3 separate regions of the Homo sapiens genome follow, and regions 1 and 3 are each linked to region 2. Evidence: fine-mapped expression QTL. A gene starts in region 2. Each other region holds a variant in brackets. All regions are shown on one strand. Distances are between the middles of the regions. Region 1 overlaps STEAP1B-AS1 (STEAP1B antisense RNA 1). Region 2 holds the start of IL6 (interleukin 6). Region 3 overlaps LOC401312 (a long non-coding RNA gene).

Region 1 (8,183 bases), 150 kb after region 2:
TAATTTTTTGTATCTTCAGTAGAGATGGGGTTTCACCATGTTGGCCAGGCTGGTCTCAAACTTTGGACCTCAGGTGATCCACCTGCCTTGGCCTCCCAAAGTGCCGGGATTACAGGTGTGAGCCACTGCACCCGGCCAACCTTCTGTCTTGACAGGAATAGGTTAAGGTAGCTTTGGGGGTAGGAGTGAGAGGTGTCCTTGTGATCTCTCAACAGTCCCCAACCTTTCCCCTCATAGTACCTGAGTGTTTTCCCTTCTCTTTGTGACACTCCACTGAAGGACCACCAATGAAGACTACTACTAAAGATGCAAATATCCCTGGAAAAGGAGATGGAGTGACAGGAACACTGATCCTACACCAGGGCTGAGCACAGAGGATAGAGACAAAGCAGGACCCAGGAAATGTGTATTGCAAGTTTGAAGGTTGAGCCTTTATAGAACAGTGATCTTGCTGGAACACTCAGGTGAGGAATGAGAGTAGATAGCGAGGCTGAGAAGGACAGCTGAGATGGGGTGGGGAGGGGGTGGGGAATGTCGTCAGGGGAATCAAAGATCTGAGTGAGATAGGACAAGCACAGGGAAAAGCAGCAGGCATTCAAGGAGAGGACCTTTATAGGTTGCAAAAGGTGCCCAAGGTTGTTGGAAAGGGAGCTTACAAAGGTGAATGTGGTGAATCTCTACCTGCAGGAGGAGATGAAGGGGTGCTTCTCTGTTCCCAGGGTCTGAGATTAGGCTGGAACCACTGGCCAGAAACTTAGTTTCATGGCAGGCTTCTTCAGCCTTTCTGGCATCTGCGGACTAATCACACCAAACTCGGTCACCCTGTTCATTAGGTAGTATGTCATATCCTGCAAACCACTAGATTATAAACCCAATTTGTGGTCTGCTTTCGGGGTGAGACTGTCGCTATCTCAGGTCAGATTTTTAAGGGTCAGTCTTATGGCTGCACCTAGAGCTTTGTCAGAGTCAAGCCCTCTGGGTTAGTTTAGGGAGCCACAGTTTGGTACCCAGAGTTGGGCTTGAAACAGTTGAGCAACAAGTCACTTTTCTTTATCTTCCTGTGCATTTTCAGCAGTCATCATGATTCATATGACATAGTTCCTCGAAAGACCAAGAAAAAGTCACACAATACTTCCTATTTCCTATGGTGCAGGGATACATATTTTCTTTCTTTTTGAAAAACGCTGTCGCTGTGTCGACCAAGCTGGAATGCAGTGGTGCAATTACAGCTCACTTCAGCCTTGACCTCCTGGGCTCAAGGGATCCTCCCACCTCAGCCTCCTGAGTAGCTGGGACTACAGACACATTGCCACCACACTTGACTAATTTATTTACTGTAGAGATGAGGCGGGAGAGGGGTCTCACTATGTTGCCCAGGCTGGTCTCGAACTCCTTGGCTCAAGCAATCTGCCTGTCATGGCCTCCTAAAGTGCTGGGATTACTGGCGTGAGCCACTGTGCTCCAGCCTTCATATTATTTATAACTACAGTACATAGTTAAGAATGTCTGGGACTTCAGAGTTGGAAGCATTAAGAAATATTTCTGTGATTAAATATAGATACTGGGTAATAGTGTCTGTTTCTAATTTATTTTTTAAACTATTTTTTTTCACCGCAAACAAACTAAAAGATAGTGACTTTTAGTCCTGGTGCAGTGGCTCATGCCTGCAATCCCATTGCGGGCACTGGGAGGCTGAGGCAGGCAGATCACTTGAGGCCAGGAGTTCAAGATCAGCCTGGCCAACATGGCGAAACCCTGTCTCTACTCAAAATACAAATATTAGCCAGGTGTGGTGGTGCGTGCCTGTAATCCCAGCTACTCGGATGGCTGATGCACAAGAATCGCTTGAACCCGGGAGGCAGAGGTTGCAGTGAGCCAAAGTCATGCCACTGTACTGACTTCTTAAATGTGGAGGTAGAAAGAGTTAAGACTTTGCATATATCTACATGACACTAATCCATATCTAAAATTTCATATTATGGATTAAAATTCTGAAATTTGAGTTTCCGTTTAATGGTATAGTTAGAAAGAGAAATCCAATCAGGATATAACAAGATTATAAAACCACTATTAGTCCAACAATTCTCAAAATATGGCTAGGGGACTGCTGGGGGTCCCTAGGTTCTTTCTGAGAGATCGCAAATCCTGCCTTTTCCAACTGTATACCTATCTAAGACTTGACTTTACTGTGTAAGACTGGATTTTCTTTTTATACTTCAGCCAAAGCAACGTAAGTAACAGATTGAATACAGAAGTAGATAGGAGATTTTAGCCATCTTCTCTAAGACCAGATATTAAATAAATTTCTAAAAATATAACACAATGCCAATCTTATCATTACATTTTGTGGGGGTTGGGGGAAATATAGTTACTTTTCATGAAAACCATTATTAATGTTAAAAAATAAAGAGTTTGTTATAGTTATTTTAAATGAATGAACACATATTACAACCATTCCTTACTTTTAATTTCTAATATAGTAAATATTAATACATATAAGTCACACAAACAAAAGCTCTTTAAGGTCCTCACGAAGTAAGTTTTAAGAGGGTAAAGGGGTCCTGATATTGAGATGTTTGAAAACTCCTGTGTGAATCCTGGTTCATTTTCCTCAAGCTAATTCTCTGGACTTTGTACCCATCCAAATTCCATTTCCTTAGCTTGAGTTTGTTACCACCTCCACCCTCTTCATTTTCCCTCCCAACAGTATGCTTATGTGCAAGGGTAACGTAAAAATATGTAGCACGTTATATGGCATGGAAACCCACCAATGCAAGCATTTGCACAACCGTAAGCAAAGATTCTGACTGAAAGCAAAAAGTTCAGTCCCCCTGTCTCTGAACTTCTAGGTCTTTCCACTTGTAAATTCCATCTGCCTGTGGATATATGAGAATTCCCTCTGTCATCCAAAAGACTGTCCTGCTTACAGGTGAATCCTGGGGGGCTGGACATAGTACCTAGCACATCGGAGGGACTCAGCTGGAATCTGTGCGTGAGTCCATATTTCTCTATCCTGAGTGCAAACTCTGCCGCACTTAGTAGTGTCCCTCACACCAGTGTGGAGGAACACAACGTAGGGTTCCATTATGGCGATGAGACTGAGAACAGTCACCAGCCACTTTCATCACCATCATCATCATTGCCCCAAGGAGATGGAGCTTCAGATGGTCTAATATTGTGCAATGTCTTAAACACCTGGATGAGATTTGTTTAGGCTTAAGGAATGCGTGAAATGACTCAGAGATCTATGTTAACCAAACCAGTTAAACCACCCTAGTTAAGACGTAGTTAGCACATTGCTTAGCGTGCACCAGAATGAGCTTGTCACCAGAAATGCATGGAATGTATTGAGATGCCGTATTTTGGTGAAATGAGATTATGAGAACTGGGAAAACCAGATTCAGGGGATTTCCGAAGGCCTGAGGCTAGGCTATGACCACCAGCTCTGCACGCTTGGAACTCTCCCCAAGCGAGCATGTGATTCCTTGGGCACTTATCCCTTCCTTCTTAATGTTATGGAATGAATTGTGCATCCACCCACCCTGAATTCAGATGTTGAGGTCCTAGCCCTCAGTACGCAGAATGTGATCTTATTTGGAGGTAGGGTCTTTACAGAGGTAATCAAGTTAAAGTGAGGGGCGGGGTGCTAACCCAATAGGACTGATTTCCTTATTTTAAAATAGGGAAATTTGGACCCAGAGATACATTCAGAGAGAAGATGATGTGAAGGCACAGGAAGGATGCCCTGTGAACATCAGGACCA[A/G]TGCCTGCAAACCTAGGAGAGAGGTCTACAACAGATCCTTCCCTCGCAGCCCTCAGATCGAACTGACCCTGCAAGTACCTTGATTTTGGACTTCTGGCTTCCAGAACTGAGCAACAATAACTTTCTGTTGAAGCCGTCCAGTTTTGAAGCCACCCAGTCTGTGGTGCTTGGTTACCGCGGCCCTAGCAAACTTGCCTGAGGCTTTCCAAATCACAGCCCCGTTTTGTCACAGGGGAAGAATTCTAAGAAGTTCTTTATTTGGCCAAGTGAGGGATAGAAGAATAATGAGCATTTCCCTCATCACAGCTCTGACAACTGCCTCAGCCACACACGGCTTAGGAGATTGGCCACTTCCTCCGCCTTCAGCTTGCAGGGGGCTTCAGTAATAAATGTGTAGAAGTGTTTGGTCTTCTCAATGCTGGGAATCCAGGGAGTATGGCCTGGCATACATGGAAACCAGTCCCCTAAAGACCTCATTGACACAGGCCTCATTTGGGGGTCTCCTCAGGCACTTCCCCCTTGGCTCCTGAGGCCAGAACCCGACCCTGCTGTGTCTCTCTTCCATGCATCTTTTTGCCATCTCTGCTCTCTGGAATCTGCAACAATATGAGGGTGCTCAGGACTTTGATGTTGCTACTGACCTCAGCATGCCCCAGTCCAAACCTACCTTCTTCCTCCTGGGCCCACATCCGCTTCTGCTCCCCACTTCCCCAGTGTCTTCATTCTTTTCATCACATGCTGACCAAAGACTCATCTTTAGGCACTCTCTATGTCCCTTCTGCTACATCCACTCTGTTGCCACATCTCCTGAATTCTTCTGTCTGATTTCTTCTCACTCTTCCTTTCCACCCTGGATCAGTCCATTGGGGCCGCATGTCAGGACACCGGATGACACTGTTTGGACACCTGGAAGGATCGGGTAAAAGATACAGAGAAGTCTAAGGAGGGATAGGGTGAGTCTGGGATGGGCTGTGGATTAGGCACCAGGTAAAGCTAATTGGGGGGTGGGTGAGGAATGGGGTGAGGGTATCTATTGCATCTATTTTATGGTAATAAAAGGAAGTTGAAAGTTCAGTTGCTTGTTTTGGGGAATTAAAAATGATCATGAATGTCAAAATGTGAGCAACTTTGCACAGAATGGCAATATCAGAGTGTCATGGATCATCGCAGAAGCCTTCTCCTTGTTGCCTGCATTTCCTTCCTCTAATATTGTACACACTACCACCATATTTAAATATGCAATTCTGGTTAAATGCACCATTTCATTTATTCATATAGTCAACAAACATTTGCTGAGCACACTTCTCATTATTGAAATTTAGTAGAAAATGAGACTGAGTGGATCCCTGTTATTTTCCTACCATTCCCTCCAAGAGCTCCCGCTCCAAATCATTCTTCTTTTAGGCTGACTCTTAGTCTTAGTCACCATATATGTGAGTGTGTGTGTGTGTGTGTGTGTGTGTGTGTGTGTGTGCATGTGGTGTGAACATATGGCAAATATATAACTAGGGCCCCAGATATAGATTCGTAACTCATTTATTATAATCAAAATGAAGATACTAAAGGGTACAGATGCTCAGTGGTTACCGTGGTGATGAGCACTCTGCGAATAGCCTTATTCCCCTTTGACGGCATTTTCATTCATAGGATGAAATGAAGAAAACATGAGAACATTTCCAAAAGTGCAGGAATTATCCCCTCTGTCATGCCATGCATTTGTTTTCATTTTTCGAATTTTAAGCTTGAGAACTTTTAAGCTGGCTTTTTAAAGTTTATGCAAGGAGAACAAACTTAGTTGCTTAGTTTGCTGCTCTTCTAATTCCTTAGATTTGTAATATAAAGCAGCATCCCATTTTAATTTTGAAAGGCAAAGAGCTACGCTGTTGCCTCCATCCTTCTCCCAATTCCCCTTATTTGATACTCCCCAGCACCAGAGATGCAGGCTGTTCCGCTCTCCTCTCATCCAAGTGCAGGGAAACTTTCTCTCAAGTTTTCTCTCTCAACTAATAACCATAAGTTTTTGGAGAAGTCAGTCAGTTCAAAATATATGACATTTTAGGCCAGGTGTGGTGGCTCACATCTGTAATCCCAGCACTTTGGGAGGCTGAGGTGGACAGATCACTTGAGGCCAGGAGTTCGAGACCAGGCTGGCCAAGATGGCAAAACCCTGTCTCTACTAAAAATACAAAAATTAGCCAGACGTGGTGGTGGGTGCCTGTAATCCCAGCTACTCAGGAGACTGAGGCATGAGAGTGGCTTGGACTTGAGGGGGCGGAGGTTGCAGTGAGCTGAGATCACACCACTGGACTCCAGTCTGGGTGACAGAGTAATATTTTGTCTAAAAAAAAAAAAAGATATAAAAAAATTAATCATACAGACCTCATAGAATGGTCAGAGATAAGATATAAACTGCTGGGTATTTTCTGGATTTAAACCAACTAAGCCGAAAGTTTGGTTTATATTGGGCAAGCATGAAGATGAATATAATCTGTGACTGAGTGCTCGATTCATCACGCTCTGAGTCTCCTTTCTAAGACACCGTCGGCTGCGTAGACTTGGAGAGGGTCCAAGGGAGGAAGTTGCGGGCAAGGCAACCAGTGGGAAATGCCCAGTTTCATTCTAAAGTCTGCTGAAGGGGTACGACGAGTCTGTACTTCTTTGAAAGGTTTTGGAGAAATACCTTGCACATGACAATTAGAGAAGTTCTGGTTATAGTAGCAGGAACTTATTTAGATTGTCCCTGGATCATGGGTAAGAGGGCACAAGAAAGAGAAGCCTCTGGTTAAGATATTTAGAAAGATGGGGTAGAAAGATGGGTTCCTGGGTAGTTGGCTATTGTCCCATAAATCAGGGCCCCTCACCTTCTGGTCAAGCCCTGCAGCCTGATGGGCAGAGGGACATGTGTCAGCTGTACTTGACACATGGTTTTAAAGCCAACACTTACTGAATGAGCAGTTCGCAGGTGCCAGGCCTAGAACTGTGCACTTTGCAAGCATTGTCTGGTTTAGCCCTCTTAGGATCCAGAGACTCGGCCTCATTTGATAGAGGAGAACATAGAAACCCAGAAAAGTTAAAAATTGTTCCCAAAGTCACATCTTGGTCTCTCCATCTCCCAGAGTTTCTTAGGTACCACCCCCACTACTTCAATGCTATCACTAATTTTTTTTGTGTGTGTGTTCCTCCAAAGCTTTCTGTACTGTACAAGATAAATGCAGAAACTTTCTTGTGTGCCATTGATTCAAAATTCAACATGCATTTTTAAAGAATTATTAGGGACTAGGTTTGTACTAAACAGAGACGAAGATATACAGCCCCTGCATTGAAATTGCTCATCCTCATTTATTTATTTATTCATCCATCCAGCAGACTTTTCCTGAGCACTTTCTATATCCCAGGTACTGTACTAGGTGCTGCGAATAAAAATGCAAGTCAGACACTGTGTTTAACATTAATATTAATTAACATTAATAGTAATGATAATAACAATACTACTAATAATAGCTAACACTTACTGAGCACTTACTGTATGCCCTCCACTGTTTTAAGCACTTTGTACTATCAACTCAATCAATCTTCACCACAAGCCTGTGAGCTGGGTACTATTATCACAATCTTGATTTTACAGATGAAGAAACTAAGGCACAGAGAGAGTAAGAGATTTGTGATGGGCCAGGAGCGGTGGCTCATGCCTGTAATCCTAGTACTTTGGGAGGTCAAGGCGGGTGGATGGCTTGAGCTCAGGAGCTCAAGACCAGCTGGGGAAACACAGCAAGACCCCTCTTCTATCAAAAACAAAAACGAAAGCAATTTTCTGGGTGTGGTGGCATACTTGTAGTCCCAGCTCCTTGGGGAGGTGAGATGGGAGGATACCTGAGCTGGGGGAGGTCAATCCTGCAGTGAGCCGTGATCACACCACTGCACTTCAGTATGGGCGACAGAATGAGACTCTGTCTCAAAAAAAGATTCAAACTATCCGTTTGAATACTGTATGCACACCAGTGTGGGAAGTAAATGAAACAACAACAAAATGTTTGCAAGGCAGTGAAATTGGAGAGAATTGAGGTCAGTTCATGGTCATGAGGGCCAAGGAGAATCAGCGACCAAATATGCCTATCTCCAGGGTTCTGGTAGGGTCTCTTGTCCTCAAAGTGGGCATGTGGCTCTTGGCAAGCTAGGTTAGGAGAGTTGCCTAAGTGTGATGAGCTGGATATTCAAGCTGGCAGAAATGAATTTCTTATACCCTTTTTCAGCTTCATTTCAAATATATGGGGCTGTTTCTACAACAATTGAACTCATGGACACATGGACGAGATGGCTTTTGTTGTGTTTGAAAAAGGGTCAGCAGCAAAGGGGCCAAGAACATATATTGGTGAAGGACAGTCTCTTAAGTAAATGGTGCTGGAAAAACTGATATCCACAT
Region 2 (8,183 bases):
GTCAGGGGTGGTTATTGCATCTAGATTCTTTGCCTGAAGGAAAATGAAAGTAAAAAGGATTGTTTAAATGTTGAATAAATCCTTTGCAGTGGAGGGATGCTCTGGGCTATGGGATGATGTTCAAATGTGAAATGTGGGGTGAATGAGATTAACTGGGGTGCCTGCTCTGAGTAGGACCCTTCCATAGCAACAAACTTCTTTTTTTTTTTTTTGAGTCAAGGTCTCGTTCTGTCACCCAGGCTGGAGTGCAGTGGTGCACAGCAACCTCTGCCTCCTGGGTTCAAGTGATTCATGTGCCTCAGCCTCCTGAGTAGCTGGGTTACAGGTGTATGCCACCATGCCTGGCTAACTTTTTTGTATTTTTAAGTAGAGATGGGGTTTTACCATGTTGACCAGGCTGGTCTTAAACTCCTGGCCTCAAATGATCCACCCACCTCAGCCTCCCATAGCGCTGGGATTATATCAGCACTGTGCCTGGCTCACAGCAACCAACTTCTAATCATCCCTTTGCTGTTCTGTCTCCCATTAGACCACAAGCATCCTGAGGGAAGCACCACTATCATTTTTGTTTGTTTGGTTTTGGTTTTTTGTAGAGATGGGGTCTTGCTATGTTATCCAGGCTGGTCTTGAACTCCTGGCCTTAGGAGTTCAAGGAGTTCTCACCTTAGGCTCCCAAAGTTTAGGGAATACAGGCATGAGCCACCAAGCCTGACCAGCATCACTATCTTATTTGTTTGTATTCTGTCATATGAAATAATGCCTGGCACATAGTTCATATTTAGTATATGAATGAAGAGCCCATACTTAAAGGCATTTTAATATGGGTTCTTCAGTGGCCTCTAAATCTGATACTTTTCTCCAGTTTCCCTCTCACCATCCCTTTAGGATCTGTTGAAAGACCACTGATCCGGTGGTGTAAAGAGGACTGGGAAACACCTTTCCATAGACCCACCATATGGGATAAGTAACTTGTGGAAGGCCTTAAACCTCCAAGTGTGGTCCTGGAATTCTGCAGCATCACCAGGGATATAAGCCTGGTAGAAATTTGACCCTCAAACCCACCCGAGGCTTGCTAAGTCAGACTCCACACCACAAGAAGATGCCCAGGGAATTCCCATGCATGTTAACATATGAGAAACCCTGGCTTAAGTAGAAATGGCAGAGGCAGGATCAGCACCAAGGGTTTCATTCTAGGCCCCTTCTTATTGAGCTTTGGCTCCTCCACATGCTAGCCAGCAAGTCTACTCCCTGCTGTCTGAATAGCCAGCTACTGGTGGCCAAAGCCTTTGGTACCTCTTTCCACCCTTGAGTCTCTGACCATTTCTCTGAACTAACTCTCTGGTAAAAGGTAGGAAAAAGAATTGAAACAACCACAGTGAGAAGAATGTCACTTGGCAATGACTAAAATCTTAAAATCATTTTGTGCTCCTTGGTCTTTGTTTCTGTGGATCACTGGCTGGAGTTGGATGCACTTTTTTCTGCCCGCCCCCCCGCCTTTGGTTTTAAATCTCTTGCACTATTAAAAATTGATGTTAAAATCCACCTCAGTTAATATATAGTTTAAAATACAGTTATTGATGTCCTTTGCAGAAGAGAGCCAACCAACCAAACAAACAAAAAAAGATTTAACAATAACAATCAGAAACTATTTCTCAGACTCTTTTGTTTACGTGTAGCCTTCTCTTTTGGAAGTGGCATTGCATCCCTGAGTTGTCCAGGACACTGTCTTTGAGCCTGTCTTCCCCCACACCAAGTTGAGGGAATGAGGACACACCCACCTTTTTCTGCAGGAACTGGATCAGGACTTTTGTACTCATCTGCACAGCTCTGGCTTGTTCCTCACTACTCTCAAATCTGTTCTGGAGGTACTCTAGGTATACCTCAAACTCCAAAAGACCAGTGATGATTTTCACCAGGCAAGTCTCCTAAGAGGAAAGATGGTGGGAAAATTGGTTATCGCCAGGAGATAGAATCAATTTGAAAAGTTAAAATTGCCACAGTTCGACATCTTTTCCCTCTGCTCCTCTAGAGAACTTCAAGTACCTCTTAGGCAGCATGTTTTGGGACATTGGACAGCACCATTTTAAATAACTGGACAATCAGAGGCCCCATGTAATTAGTTTTATCCAAAGCCCAACAGATGCTAGAATGTGGCAATGGGGATCCTTCTCTGATTGTCCCCCTTGATGTTCTTCCTGCACTCTTGCCCTTGTTAATGCTGGGCTGGAACCTCCTTTTATAAAATAATCAGAAGACAGTGCAGGTTATCTCACTGTGGAGAATGAGCTGGGCAGGGAGGGAGGGCAGACCTGGACCCTGCCAGGGGCAGCCAGAGAGGGAAAAGGCCCTGAGAGTACCTTTCCCAGGATGAACTAATTAAACCTGTGGGAGTTTTAAACATTTGACAGTTGTTAAAATCTCACCACAGTGGCACCATCTCTGGCCATACCTGTCCAAGAATAAACTGCCTTTAAAAAAGCTTGAAGTTGGCCTCCTCATGAAATTTACATAACATTCTTTACATTTACCCACTTTTTGTTGCTGCCTGGATCTATATGTATACAGGCACTGCATGCAAGAGGGAGAAGTTTTGCCTAAGGAATAGTGAAAAGTGAGTGCGACAAGTTGGTACCTCATTGAATCCAGATTGGAAGCATCCATCTTTTTCAGCCATCTTTGGAAGGTTCAGGTTGTTTTCTGCCAGTGCCTCTTTGCTGCTTTCACACATGTTACTCTTGTTACATGTCTGGGAAAGAATACCAGAATTGTTATCACCTAAGTGTCCCTAAAACAAACACCACTAGAGGGCCTTTTCATTGTTCAACCACAGCCAGGAAAGTCTCTAAGAAAAATGAAGCTACAACTCATTGGCATCCTGGCAAGCAAATTCCAGTGGAGTGGGGGCACACTTGGGTTCAGTTCCAAGCTCACCTGTGACTTTAGGTGTGTTACTTAATCCTGAGTCTCAGTTTCCTTATCTCCAAAAACCTTCCTTGCAAATTTGTTTTGAAGATTAGACACAATATTTATTTAAAGTGCCTGGCACACAGTAGATACTTAATAACAGCAATTTTGACAATAATTAGGAGAATATAATTCAAGCCATAGAATGTTCCAGCAGGAAGGATCTATGAGATCACCTAGTCCACGCCCAATTTTACTGATGGAGTCCAGAGGTGGTAGGGAATTTACCCAAGATCACAAGGCTGGTTTGGCAGAACCAGAATTCGAGTGTGGGCTCCCAATCTCCCCTCCTGTGTTCTTTTCTTTCTACCAAACAGGACCAAAATACCTTGCATTGAAAGTGGGGAGATGCTTTAACCTATTTATGATTTGCCACTTTGGTGGGCTCTGAGGTATGAATCTTAGCTGGAATGGCTTTGAGGAATCCTAGCCATTGAGTTTACATAACCAAAAAGTACTGCAACTGCTCTGAGAAGCTGAACATGCCTTTCAGGTGGCACTTTTCTAGTCCTTCCAAAGCCCGGGGGACAAAAAGGAGCTTCACAGACCTAATTTTTTGGAAAGGGAAAAGGAAGCCCTGAGAAGCAATAACCCTCAGCTCATGCCAAAGGTGGGCATGGATTTCAGACCCATTCTGCATTTTCCAGAAAGGAAAGGAACTTCCTGACACCAGCAAAGGATAAATACAGAAGTCAGTCTAGTCGGCCCCGTTGGCCTCAAATCTACAGTGCTCTAGAACCCAGCAAAGACCTCCTAATGCAGGCAGCCCCCGGCCACACGCAGGGGCAAGGGGAACGCATGCGCACCGGGCCCTTCAACCCCATCGCCAAGCCTACCCACCTCCTTTCTCAGGGCTGAGATGCCGTCGAGGATGTACCGAATTTGTTTGTCAATTCGTTCTGAAGAGGTGAGTGGCTGTCTGTGTGGGGCGGCTACATCTTTGGAATCTTCTCCTGGGGGTACTGGGGCAGGGAAGGCAGCAGGCAACACCAGGAGCAGCCCCAGGGAGAAGGCAACTGGACCGAAGGCGCCTGTGCCGGAGGGGAGCGAGCGCAGGGGTGAGCTGACAGCACAGCTGGGAGCCTGCCTCTGCTGCTGGCCGCCCGCCAGCCCTCCCTGGGCCACACACCCCTCCCTCACACAGGGCTCGACCGCCGCTGGCAGTTCCAGGGCTAAGGATTTCCTGCACTTACTTGTGGAGAAGGAGTTCATAGCTGGGCTCCTGGAGGGGAGATAGAGCTTCTCTTTCGTTCCCGGTGGGCTCGAGGGCAGAATGAGCCTCAGACATCTCCAGTCCTATATTTATTGGGGGTTGAGACTCTAATATTGAGACTCATGGGAAAATCCCACATTTGATAAATCTTTGTTGGAGGGTGAGGGTGGGGCCAGAGCGGGTGGGGCTGATTGGAAACCTTATTAAGATTGTGCAATGTGACGTCCTTTAGCATGGCAAGACACAACTAGGGGGAAAAGTGCAGCTTAGGTCGTCATTGAGGCTAGCGCTAAGAAGCAGAACCACTCTTCCTTTACTTTCTTTTTTTCTTTTATTAGTGACTCAGCACTTTGGCATGTCTTGACAAAGAGTAAAGCTGAAGTCATGCACGAAGTTTTACAAAGAGAAAAAAAATAAGCTAAAGCTATGTTTTTTGAAAAAAAAAAAATTTTTTTTCAGTGACCAGATTAACAGGCTAGAATTTAGCGTTCCAGTTAATTTGTATTTGTAAAAACCAAAGATGTTCTGAACTGAGTTTCCTCTGACTCCATCGCAGCCCCCCAAGCCTGGGATTATGAAGAAGGTAATACTACCAGTCATCTGAGTTCTTCTGTGTTCTGGCTCTCCCTGTGAGCGGCTGTTGTAGAACTGCCTGGCCATCCTCAAATTTCGTGCAGTTACTTCAAGGCGTCTCCAGGTGGAGTGTGTGACTCCTTTTTGCCACCGCGTGGCTTCTGCCACTTTCTTCACCTGCTTCAGCCCACTTAGAGGAGGTTGGCTGCTGCCCTGCCCTCTCCCAAGTGACCCCTTGGGAATCCTCCCAGTGAGGACTTTGCTCTCTGTGCCAGAGGTTTGCCTTGTGCTGCCAGTGCTCTCCCCATTGCCACTGAGTCTCTTCACCACTGTTTCACTGGGGCACCTGCATGGGCCCCAGGTCTCCTGGAGCCCTGAAATTACTGAAGCCCACTTGGTTCAGGGCAGAAAGGGGGAGAATACTACTCACCTCTTTGTTGGGGATGTCAAAGGAGGACCTTGTGGCATCTTGCAGAGTTTGTGTTTATCGCTCCCTCTCCCTGTAAGTCTTGATTTGAAATCAAAAGAAGCTAGAAGGAAACTACGGACGCAGGCACGGCTCTAGGCTCTGAATCTGCTTCCGCGTCGGCACCCAAGAATTTCTTATTGGGTCAAGCTGGTTCAGAAGCCCTCTTCCCTCAGGATGGTGTCTCTTGCAGGAGGATCCTTGGTCTCATGCAAATGGGCTCTAGACTAGGTTGTCCCTCCAGTCTCCAGAGACCCAGACAGCTCTGAGATGGCTTCAGGCTGAAACCAGACCCTTGCACAACACCAAAACACTTATTTACCAAACATGGTGTTACCTTCACAATCGGTTTCTTTGCTTTGCTAAGAAGAGATCTCTTCAAGATCGATAAAACAGTGACCTCTGTTGGGCATTTACTCAAGTTTTGTTTCGTGCATAACATTTCAGGACCCGCCTGTTGGGGAAAGTGAGGTCATCCATTCTTCACCGATTGTCTAAACAGAGACGGTGGTCCTCTGCCGCGGTGGGATTCTTTGGTGTGAAAATGAAAATGGGGGAGGATGGCTGGATGGTTTCATTTTTAGTGCTCTCCTGTCTTAAGCAACGTAGACACTCCTGAACCAAGTTCTCTTTCCTGCATGAAACGAAGCCACTGCTCCCAGCTCCGCAGCCGTGCACTGTGATCCGTCTATGTAATGTGAGCTTGCTTTTACTCAACTATCTATTTTTTAGAAAATACAATTCAATAAATTTCAAGTACTTGAACTGAGTGACACAATACAACACACAGATTTATCTTTTCAATAAAAAGTGTTTTTTAAATAGGAAGTTCGTGTTCATGATAAAATGTTCAAATAGGACATCAGGGCATGCAGGGAAAAGTGTCTCCTTCCTCTCCTGGCCCCTTTTCCCAGAGGTAGCACCTAATTGCCTGTATTTTCAACCAAATCCTCTGTTATCCTAGCCTGGGAAAGGTTTTCTCGTCTTCCCAGCTGTTTGATCCTGGCTGTTACATCAAGGACCTGTGCCCTTGTTTATTCACCTATAAAACGGGGGTAATAATAGTTCTTCCTTTCTAGGGCTGTTGTGAAGATGGAACGTGATGCAGTGTAAAAAATTCCTGGCGCATAGTAATCCCACAATACATGCTAGCTCTTTGAACATTCCTTGGCTCAGAGTCTCTGCCTTGGAGAGCTCTTCCAGCTCGGCTATATCGGTTCACCTGGTGTCTTGCCTATGAAGGAATTATGAATGAACCAGGCCTCTGTGCCAGCAATGAGCTGGTCTCCCAATCATTTTCCCTCAAAAGAAATGAGATTCTATGTTTTGTTGAAAATGTTTTATGGCACAAAGTGCAAAATGAAAAATAATAATAATTTTCTTTTTTGAGAACATTAAGATCCCCAAACCAGGTCTCTTGTTTTAGATAATTAGTCCAGCTTGCGTCTTGCTCCTACTAGACTTTTTCCAAGCCCTCCACTAAGTGTTTTTATGTCAGAATTCCACAGCCTTCCCTGTGCATGGTGATTGCCATTAATTCAAACTCCTGATAGTGGCCCTCGAGGGTGAAGGGGCCTGATGCTTCTGGGGTCAAGAAAGGGCAAACTGTGGGAAGGCATGTGTGTAGGGAGCTTGGAGACACTGTCTGCCCCCTGCACATCGCAGCATGGCACTTTATTAGTATCAATGCTTTGGGCTGGAATTTGCTTGTGGGAGAGATGAGCTCTACCTTGCTCCAAAAACGTTAATGTAACTGACATGTGCAATTCCACAATGATAGCTTCCTTCCTTTGCATCTCAATGGATTTTTCGCGTGGAGAGCTCATTCTTTGTTTTTTCTTGTTTTGTTTTGTTTTTTCTCTTGAGAAGGAGTCTTGCTCTGTTGCCCAGGCTGGAGGGCAATGGCATGATCTTGGCTCACTTCAACCGCCGCCTCCCAGGTTCAAGCAATTCTCTTGCCTCAGCCTCCTGAGTAGCTGGGACTACAGATGCATGCGACCACGCCCAGCTACTTTTTGTATTTTTAGTAGAAACGGGGTTTTGCCATGTTGGCCAGGCGGGTCTTGAACTCCTGACCTCAGGTGATCCACGCGCCTCGGCCTCCCAAAGTGCTGGGTTTACAGGCGTGAACCACTGTGCCCAGCCCCTTGTATTTTTTAAAGGGCAGCTTTAGGTCATAGCAAAATGGAGAGGAAGGTACAGAGATTTCCCATATATCCCCCTCTCCCCCCAACTCTCCCCCGTATTTTAGTATGAATACGTGACCAGAAAAGGCTGTGCTGTCAGCATTTATTAACTAATACTTTAGTTGCTGGATTGCATCATAGCTGATGTGAAGTGAGCGCCAGCTGAGATCAAGAGAGGCCAGACAAATGGGAGTGCACAGGGAGGAAGCAGCAACTTGGCTTCCTATGCCACCAGTGTGGGGCTGGCATGTCCTATCTGGATCTCCCAGAATTACTGCCCATGACTGCTTTCTTACGTGATGGTGGAGTCCAGTTCAGAATCTAGTAATACATTTGAGACCAAGGGGGAAAAGTAGCTTCCATTTGGTACTTAAGCTCTCAGGAGGAGAAGTGTTCTCCACGTCTCAGGAGTTAAGATGTAGTGTTGTGCTCTTTCTCTATATTCTGGGGGTTGGAGATGGATGAGTCTGTGATTTAACAGGAGGGAGTACAGCAAGAAAAAACGGGAAGTCCTGGGTACTAGGGAACTTGCAGTTGCTGCCAGAATGTAGTTTCACTTGTTGCCAAGTCGTAAGAAGTTTGTAAACTGAAACAGTGGGTGATTTAACAGCTTCTTCTGGGGTTGAGTCCCACTGAGCAGACACCAGGCTCTAAGGCTCTGGGAAATGTCCTGCTTTGATGGTGGTATTACTTGAAGAGAGAATTTTAGGGACATGTGGTGTGTCAATTTAGAAAGAGCCAGCTGATGTTGGAGGGCAGCCAGGCCTGGTGACCAAAGCTC
Region 3 (8,183 bases), 66 kb after region 2:
GCTCACCTCGGACCACCGGGCCTGGTGGCCACTTCCAGGTTTCCCGGGGGTGGGGGGCGGAGGGATCCCTGGAGGCTGCAGCGCCCGGAGGAGGCGGGGAGGTGGGCGAGCGGTAGGCGTCAGGCAGTGCTTCACAGGCTGTAGGCGCCCAAGGAGCCAACCAGAGAAGAACAAAATGGCAGCCATGACGCCACACCTGGCGGCCGCACACAAACACACACGGGGCAGACGTTTGCTGATGTTTGCACAGGGCATTCTCTTGTTCGTCCTGATTCTTTGTTGATGGTGCTGTCTTTGCCCGGATTGGCTACTTTTTTCCCCTTTTGCTGTCCAGTTTCCTGTTTATCCTTTAAGACTTGATCAGATAACTCCTTCCCTGGGCCCCCACTTCCCCCTCAACTCCTGCCCCTCTGTCTTTCCGTGACTGGTGTAAAATGACCTGCTAGGGAGTCAGCCTAGGGCCAGGAACTTCTTATGTTTCGGGGTGGTTTTGCTCAACTTTGTCCTTCCAGTGCCTGGCTTTCAATCACTACATTGAGGTGGTGTAGAGTTCCTGTGGGATGCTCCGAACTACACCGGGGGTACCACTTGTCCATGTGAAAGATCCCTCCATGACAGTTTTGGTCGTCTAATGATCTGCTTTATTTTTATTTTTTAAAATTGCTAGTGTTCTCTGTTTTGTTGCAATTTTAGTATACGGGATGCTGAAGCGAGCACATGATCTACCTTTTGGAAGCTTGGGAGACCTAGTGAAATAATGGTAGAAATGGACCTATGAAAATCTGCCTTTTGCTTGAGAGTAGGGCTAAAATGTCCACTACACTCGGTAATTTTGACTTGAGTGAGCATATCTGGAACAGGGTGTACTGGAAACTGGAAAATATCCTTTTTTTTTTTTTTTTTTTTTTTTTGAAACGGAGTCTTGCTCTGTCACCCAGGCTAGAGTGCAATGGCACGATCTCGGCACACTGCAAGCTCTGCCTCTCAGGTTCACGCCATTCTCCTGCCTCGGCCTCCCAGGTAGCTGGCACTGCAGGCGTGCCCCACCACGCCCGGCTAATTTTTTTTTTGTATTTTTAGTAGAGATGGAGTTTCACCGTGCTGGCCATGCTGGTCTCGAACCCCTGACCTTAAGTGATCCACCCGCCTCGGCCTCCCAAAATGCTGGGATTACAGACGTGATCCACCGTGCCCGTCCGATGACCTATATTAATACGTCACCCTAATCATTTAATTATCTTAGATATCCATTAAAGTACTGCCAAGTTTGGACGTTTAAAAGAAATACCCAGTTGAGAAATCTTATCTTGTTCCTGTGAAGGAAATGTGAAGTATGTTGAGATGGCCTGAAGAAATACTGCATATGATTGGTATTTCCTCCATCTTGCTATTTTTCTTTTTTCCCAGTGCCCTTCTTCATTCCAGACATGGTGCTTTGAACAATTTGACTTGGAGGCAAGATTGCGATATAGAAAATGGGCCACTGTGGAGGAGATAAGTAAATGCTTTGTCGCTTCTAAGTGACAGGGGAAACTGATCACGATTGGTATACTTCTGACATGTAACTTTCTATATCTTTAGAAGATCGTCAGGGAAATAGAAAAAAAAATCTGAAATCTCCAAGTAGGTTCTACTTTGTGTGGTTCCAACTAAATGAACTAAATTTGTGTTTAAAGATTGTAAGTCTACATGTAATGGTGAAAGCTGAAGGTTTTACACTGCACAGAAATAGTGATTTCCCCCCGTGGAGGGCAAGAAGACCGGAATAGGAGGGGTGGGTGGGGGAATCAATGTGTAGGCCAAATATTTGAAATTTCAGTGCAATCTTCTTAGTCATCACTTTCATTTCTGTCTTCTAGGGAAATCTGACACAGCTAGAAAGCAATGGAAAACACTAAGAGTTGCATCAGATGTTGAAGAGGAACTGATATTATGGGATAAAAAATGATTCTTTAAGGGAGATAACTGGTCATTTAAAGGTAGCAGCCTTTTTGGGAAAAGCTAACAAGTGTTCCCGAGGCCAGCCTGTCTCTTGTTAGCAACATTGGCCCTGTGTTAGAAGGAAGAGTGGATGTGTTTTGATGCTATTCCTTTTCCTCTCAGCATAAATTTGCAAGCATGTACTGTAAATGAATTTTCATGTCTTTTCAGGATGTTTCCCTATAGAGCAGTTTCTAGATTGACTCTGTGGAACAGTCTACAATAGATTTAATATGGTTAGGATTTTGCCTAATTCTGATTGGTGAGTGGTTTTCTTTTATTCATTCTTAATTCTGCATCTAATATTAGCTTACAGTGTTACTGTCACTGTGTGTGACCCAGGGAGAGAAAGGAAGTAAAAGATGTGACCTCAGAGAGCTCAGAGGGGAGAAACAACACAATAATGATAACTCACATTCATATAGAACTTTAAAATTTAAAGGTTACTTTTTACTGCGTTACCTCATTCGTCCTCTCTGCAAGCACATTGGGTAGGCTTTACTATTGCCATTTTACAAGTGAAAACAGTGAAGCTTGGAGAAGTTAAGGAACTTCCCCCAGATCACATTCCTGTAAGTGGCAGTGTCTGAACTTAGTATTCTGACTCTAAAAGGGCATGAGGTTCCATTCAAAGCTAGTGAGTACTGTACAAGAACATGCTAATGAGGCTTTGTGAATAGTCAGAGTGAAATGGGGCTCTTCAGGGATGGTATCTTGGGGAAGCACACAGTGTATGCAGATTATTGAAGAGAGTCAAAGGAGATCCTGCTGTGGGGAGAAGGCTGGAAAGTGCCATGGGAAGAGAACAAGGACAGAAATGAGGTTGACATGTGGGGCAGAGGAAGGAGGCAGACCTTCATAAACAGAGGAACCATGATTGGGAGTAATGGGGGCTAAGTGTAGGAGACACTGGGGGCTGTGTATTTAAGGGGTTGGGGAACAGTAACACCTGGAATTTTCTTTCTATTACCTCAAGAAACCCACAGTGGAGGGGCTGTGAGTGCTCCTAAGAACATGTTCTGCACTGGTGCCTCAATGGGTAGAAAAGGGGGTTGCCAACTGAGTTATATATAGAACTTGTGCAAGGGAAGTTCTTATGCAAAATGACTAAACACACTCCATTGCTCTGCCTGGTTACTTATAAATATTGTTTATGTGCAGAAGTTGATGGGAATCCAGACATTGTCTAAGAGATGGCTCAGAGAATAAAATAACAAAAAGTTGTTGTGAAAGACAAAGGGTTTCTAGGTTACCTGCAGCAGTTGATGACAGTCTGTCCTTCTGTCACAGTAGAGACAGTTTAAGCCACATTCCCAACAAGCATTC[C/T]GTATATCTGGCACTAACACATTGGAACTTGGGGGAGACTATGTGACGTAGCTTTACTCTAGGGAGGGACAGACAATCTGAGGGTGGAGAGGGAAGTGAGACCCCATACAAACCTGGGTGATCTCTACAGTTATGTAACTGTCCAGCCACAAATCACTTATTAAACAACTGGATTCAGAAGACCAAGATCTGCATTTGGGTCACTCCAGTTATCTTGAGATCTGGGACCCAGGTGGCTGGGGTGGCAGCTGATCATGTCAGGAGGACTCCTCTGCACAACATCACAAGCACAGGAGAGAATGCTAAACTTGATTGGGAGCTCACAGAAGACCCCTGGAACCCAGAGCAATAAGGTGAGGAGGCTTAAAGAGCCTGGAGAGAGGAGCTGGGTTGCAGAAGTTCTCTCTTACCTTCCTTTGAAATTTCCAGGTAGGTCCCAGGGAACACATGATGAAAAGAAACATCTGACTAGTTAGTGCTCAGCTGGCTGCACCTAGAGCGTCTCATCCAGGGAAATATTTGCCTAATTCTAGCATAGGGATTACAGTTTGCTGATCCAGGTTGGTTAAGAGCATAGACTCTAAAATCAGGGAGTTTGCAAGTTTACTGAAGCTCTTGGGGCTTGAATTTCCACTGTAAAATAGGGATAATAGCAGTTCTGATCTTGTGGAGAGGATCAAATGAGACAATGCATGCATTGCAGGTTGGGTTCCTTGGGACACAGATTATGAGATGGAGATTTGCATGCAGGAACGTTACTGAGGAGTCCTTTTGAGATCGGTACTTTTGGGAAAGTGTAGATAGCATTACTGGGCACAGGGAGAAGGAGAATTCTGATGCAGTTGTAAGAAAACTTCACTAATCCCATCAGTGGCTGTGTAGCTGCAATAACCCTTCAAGGTTATTTTGAATTGAGGTTGGTCTTATAGCCCTACATCAGTTAATCATTGGATATCAGATGTCCCTGGGATGGGGATGTGATCTTGGGCAAAGAAACTGTTCAGCAAAGGGCAATGCCTGAAGAGCAAGAGCTGATAGCTGTTAGCCACCAACATTCCCTGCAGGTGGGGAAATGAGTGCTTGAGTCCTGAAGGGGGCGATAAACCTGGGTGATACACTGCAGGTTCACCGCAGTCCACTCTTTGCACCTCAGAGTCACTTGCTTCCTATCATAAGTTCTGACAGCAGCTCTTCTAGATTCTGGTGGTCTTCTTTTCCTGGGGAAACATACAAGAGGAAGGTGAATGGAATGACCTAGTGCTCTCACCATAGCCGCTGCTCTGGTGGCTACAAGTGATGCTCATTGTCTTCCTCCTTTACTACCTATTCTAGTTTCCCCGTCCCATCTGGTCCAAGTGGTTTACCTGGCAGGTATAAAACTAGGCTGTGACAGCTGTATTTACCTATTTTCCATTAAGAGACACCCAAGCAGTTTACCTGGGTGCCAAACATAGTTTTCCCTGCTCCCAAAGCAGCCCTCTCACTTCCTGGGGATCAGAATCAATTACTCATGCCAGGAGGCTGACTCTTTTTCTTGTCTACTCTTCTCTTGGTATGAGGAATGTGAAGCAACTGGGTGGCAGCCACACTTTGTCATTTAATGGGAAACTTATTGTGTCCTCTGGTGAAAGCAAGCAACCAACAATGGTGCAAGCCACTGAATCTTTGTAGAGTATATCTCCCATCATCTGAAGGGCATGTGACTTATTAAGGCCCCCAGCATACTTGCTACTTCTTTCTCCCTGGGTCCCAGTAACATAATGTCATAAGTAGTATGGACTGATAGGATGTTTTGCAGGATAGCAGGTGACCCAGCTTTCTTTTGACTATATTTTGATGGAGGGTGAGGAGTTAACACAGCCCAGGGGCAAGACTGTAAGACAATGTATACTACTGTCTGTCCCAAGTGAAGGAGAACTGTTTACGATCTATCTTTCTGATAGAGACGGAAAAGAATGCATTTGTCAGATCCATGGCTGCAAACTAGGTACTAGAGGCAACACTAATCTGCTGTAGTCAAGATATCATATCTGGCAAAGCATTTGCGGTTGTGGATAGTGCTTAGTTGAGTTTGCTGGTCCACGGTCATCTTCCAGGATCCACATGGCTTTGGTAAAGGTCAGACTCGTGAATTAAGTAGGAATGTGAAGGGGATCACCACCCTGCATCCTTAGATCTGTTGTTCCCCTCGGGATATGATACTGTTTTTGATTTATTATACTATCATGGCTGGGTGGGAAAGGCAATTTCAGTGGCTTCTACTTAGCTTTCCCACTGTGATATGTGGAGGCTCTGCCAACAACCAAGTATGTTGATTCTAGTTATGAATACAGGAACAGGAAAAATTTCTAAGTGAGTCCAGGGAACCAGTGTATCCACTGTGAGCCAGAGTTGAGCCAGAACTCCGTTTATTAGTTGGCCCCCTTAAGCCTCCACTCTAATGGTGGGGGTGGTTGTGGAGCATGATGTTACTTTGGATCCCTGGGTTTCAGTGCAAACTTGTGTTCTGTGTCCAGCCATTCTCAAAATGCTTGGGATTTCCCCCTTTCCAAGTGTACAGTTACTTGAGTAAAGGATCATAGATTCTTTTAGGGAAAGATTGAGATAATCATTACTATATATACTTACCATGGTGTTACAGGATCCTCCCTCCTAGAGAACTTGCCCCTCCTTTAGTCAGTAGATTCTGGGTCAGAACACTGGCTCAGATCCAGAAACTGGGCCAGGGATAATGACTTTTCATTGGGCTGCCCTTAGTCTCTTAATCACGAATCCTTGATTTTTTTGGGGGGGTGGGGGGAAGTGGGGGTCTATATATTGAACATTACTCTTAATGACTTGCCCTAGAAATCCTGTATTCTATTAACTGTCTCCATGGATTATGACAGTTGTGACCACCTTGCTTCTAGTGGTTAAAGGTGGCTGCCTGGGCTCTTTTTAGGATTCTTCCTGAAAAGGATTTTAGGATCCTTTTTAGGATCCACTATTGCTATCCATGAGTTCAGCTCTGTAATAACAACTACTACCATCAGCCTGGTTCTATGGCCACTGAGAATTCTACTGAGAATTTCAGTAGAGGATGTTTTCTACTGAAATTCTCAGTGACATTGGTGGCCCTCTCACCAGGGTATTCCTTGTCACTTTGATAATCAGAATATCTTTTCGCCCCTATCATGGAACAAAGCCATCTGGTGTATTTTCTCATCTTGTTTAGTCTGTCTGCTCTAGCATGCCTACTTTTCTGAGCCTTTTGATCTTTTCTTCCACTGTTTGCTGTGGCAGTTATGGCATTTCTTCTTTACTGTTTTCTCCAAACTTACCTGATCCATCCTACATGTGTCTTAGTGCTGTCTTCTGGGGCATTAAATCCTGTCCAAACATATTATTCTAGTTCCTGCTGGCATATGCTAGCTAAGTACTGCAGTTTATTTGGGAATATGATTTTTTTCTTTCCTTGGAAGACCCAGAACTTCCTTAATTGGTTATGTTGTGATTTAATTCTAGTTAGTGGTCTGATGGCCAAGATGGGAGGTAGGAGTAGATTCTGAGAGGATGTATTATTTTATCTATTGCTGTATAACAAATTACCCCCAAAATCTAGCAACTTAAAATAACAAAATTTATTATCTCAGGATTTCTGGCTCAATGTCTCCCATGGGATTTCAGTCAAAATGTTGGCTAGGGCTGTGGCCATTTGAAGGCTTGACTGGGGATGGAGGTCCTACTTCCAAGATGGTTCATAACATGGCTTTTGGCATGAAGTCTCAGTTACTCACTGGCTATTGGCAGCAACCCTCAGTTTGTTGACACATGGATCGTTCCGTCATGCTGTTTGAGTATACTCATAACATAGGAGGTAGCTTCCCCTAGAGTGGATAATCCGAAAATGGCAAGAAGGAAGCCACAATTCCTTTTGTGGCCTAGCTTCAGAAGTCACACTCTGTTGTTTCTGAAATATCCTATTGGTTACAAAAGTCATCTCTATTCAAAGTAGAAGAGGACTACATAAGGGTGGGACTGTCAGAAGGCAGGGACCATTGGGGCTATTTTAAAGACTGCCCAGCACAGGCAAGTGTTTTTTTAGAAGAGGGCTTACCTGTCTTCAGGTAAGAGGTAGTGATAGAATTTATTAGAAAGGAGTGAGCCAATTCTTTAGGCTCAGGAAGTTTGGGGGTGGGGTGGAGAATCTGGGGATTTGAGATTTATGAGTGTATCAACATAAATTTCCCCATTCCAAGTCTCAGTGTCTCACCCCTTCATAATTAGAGACCAGACTCTGATGTGGAATACCTTCTGGGTTGAGAATTCAATTTCCTCTGTGATTCTGCTATTTTTATAATGAAGTCCTGGGTCTGATACTCAGCGTTTTCTGCCCTCTGGCTGCAGGATATGAGAGTTTCTCTATGTGTTTCCAATAAGGCCTCTGGTAGTCACATTTAATTTTAAATAGTGATTGATCACACTCAGTCTTTCACTGTTTTTACTCAATACATCTCTCTCCCTGACAACAGCCATCAAATTCCATAGCCCTTATAATTATTATCCAACCCATAGCTCAACGACTTAATACATTGCATCTGACAGTGCATTCCCTTCTACTGTTTCCCACCCTAGTTCATCCTAGTGCAAATTTAAAAAAATTCACTGTGGTTACAAATCAGTGTATCTCAGTGCTTCATCTTATCACTAGGACTGAGTTCCTCATTGTAGCCCATTTTAATGTTGCTTCTTTAGACCATTCCTGCAACAACTTTTGCTAGACATACTCACTAAGAAATGGGCTCTGAGATGGAGATAAGCATGCTGAGAGGTAACTGGGGACTGCTTTTGTGAGTGAGGAAAATAAGATGGGTCAGAAGGAGATGAACTGCAGTGCA

What was found.
Region 1: its variant is fine-mapped to the expression of IL6 in fibroblasts (GTEx, PIP 0.94).
Region 3: its variant is fine-mapped to the expression of IL6 in whole blood (INTERVAL, PIP above 0.99).

The regions. Positions count from the first base shown.
Region 1 is chr7:22,568,261-22,576,443 of GRCh38, reverse strand. STEAP1B-AS1 (STEAP1B antisense RNA 1) reads right to left here. Exons shown (of 4, transcript NR_038393.1): 3 at 4,431-4,669; 4 at 2,446-4,359. Among named protein-coding and RNA genes, the nearest start is that of STEAP1B-AS1, 9.0 kb to the right of the region's middle. The variant A/G (reference allele first, on the strand shown) is at 3,764.
Region 2 is chr7:22,723,256-22,731,438 of GRCh38, reverse strand. IL6 (interleukin 6) reads right to left here and starts at 4,239. Exons shown (of 5, transcript NM_000600.5): 1 at 4,158-4,239; 2 at 3,805-3,995; 3 at 2,633-2,746; 4 at 1,779-1,925; 5 at 1-33. The coding sequence starts at 4,176. It overlaps IL6-AS1 (IL6 antisense RNA 1), which reads left to right and starts at 3,819. Exons shown (of 2, transcript NR_131935.1): 1 at 3,819-3,871; 2 at 4,734-6,044. RefSeq lists an enhancer at 3,590-4,789 and a silencer at 4,775-4,824.
Region 3 is chr7:22,657,141-22,665,323 of GRCh38, reverse strand. LOC401312 (a long non-coding RNA gene) reads left to right here. Exons shown (of 5, transcript NR_122075.1): 2 at 1,408-2,242. Among named protein-coding and RNA genes, the nearest start is that of IL6, 66 kb to the left of the region's middle. RefSeq lists enhancers at 1-343, 344-951. The variant C/T (reference allele first, on the strand shown) is at 3,307.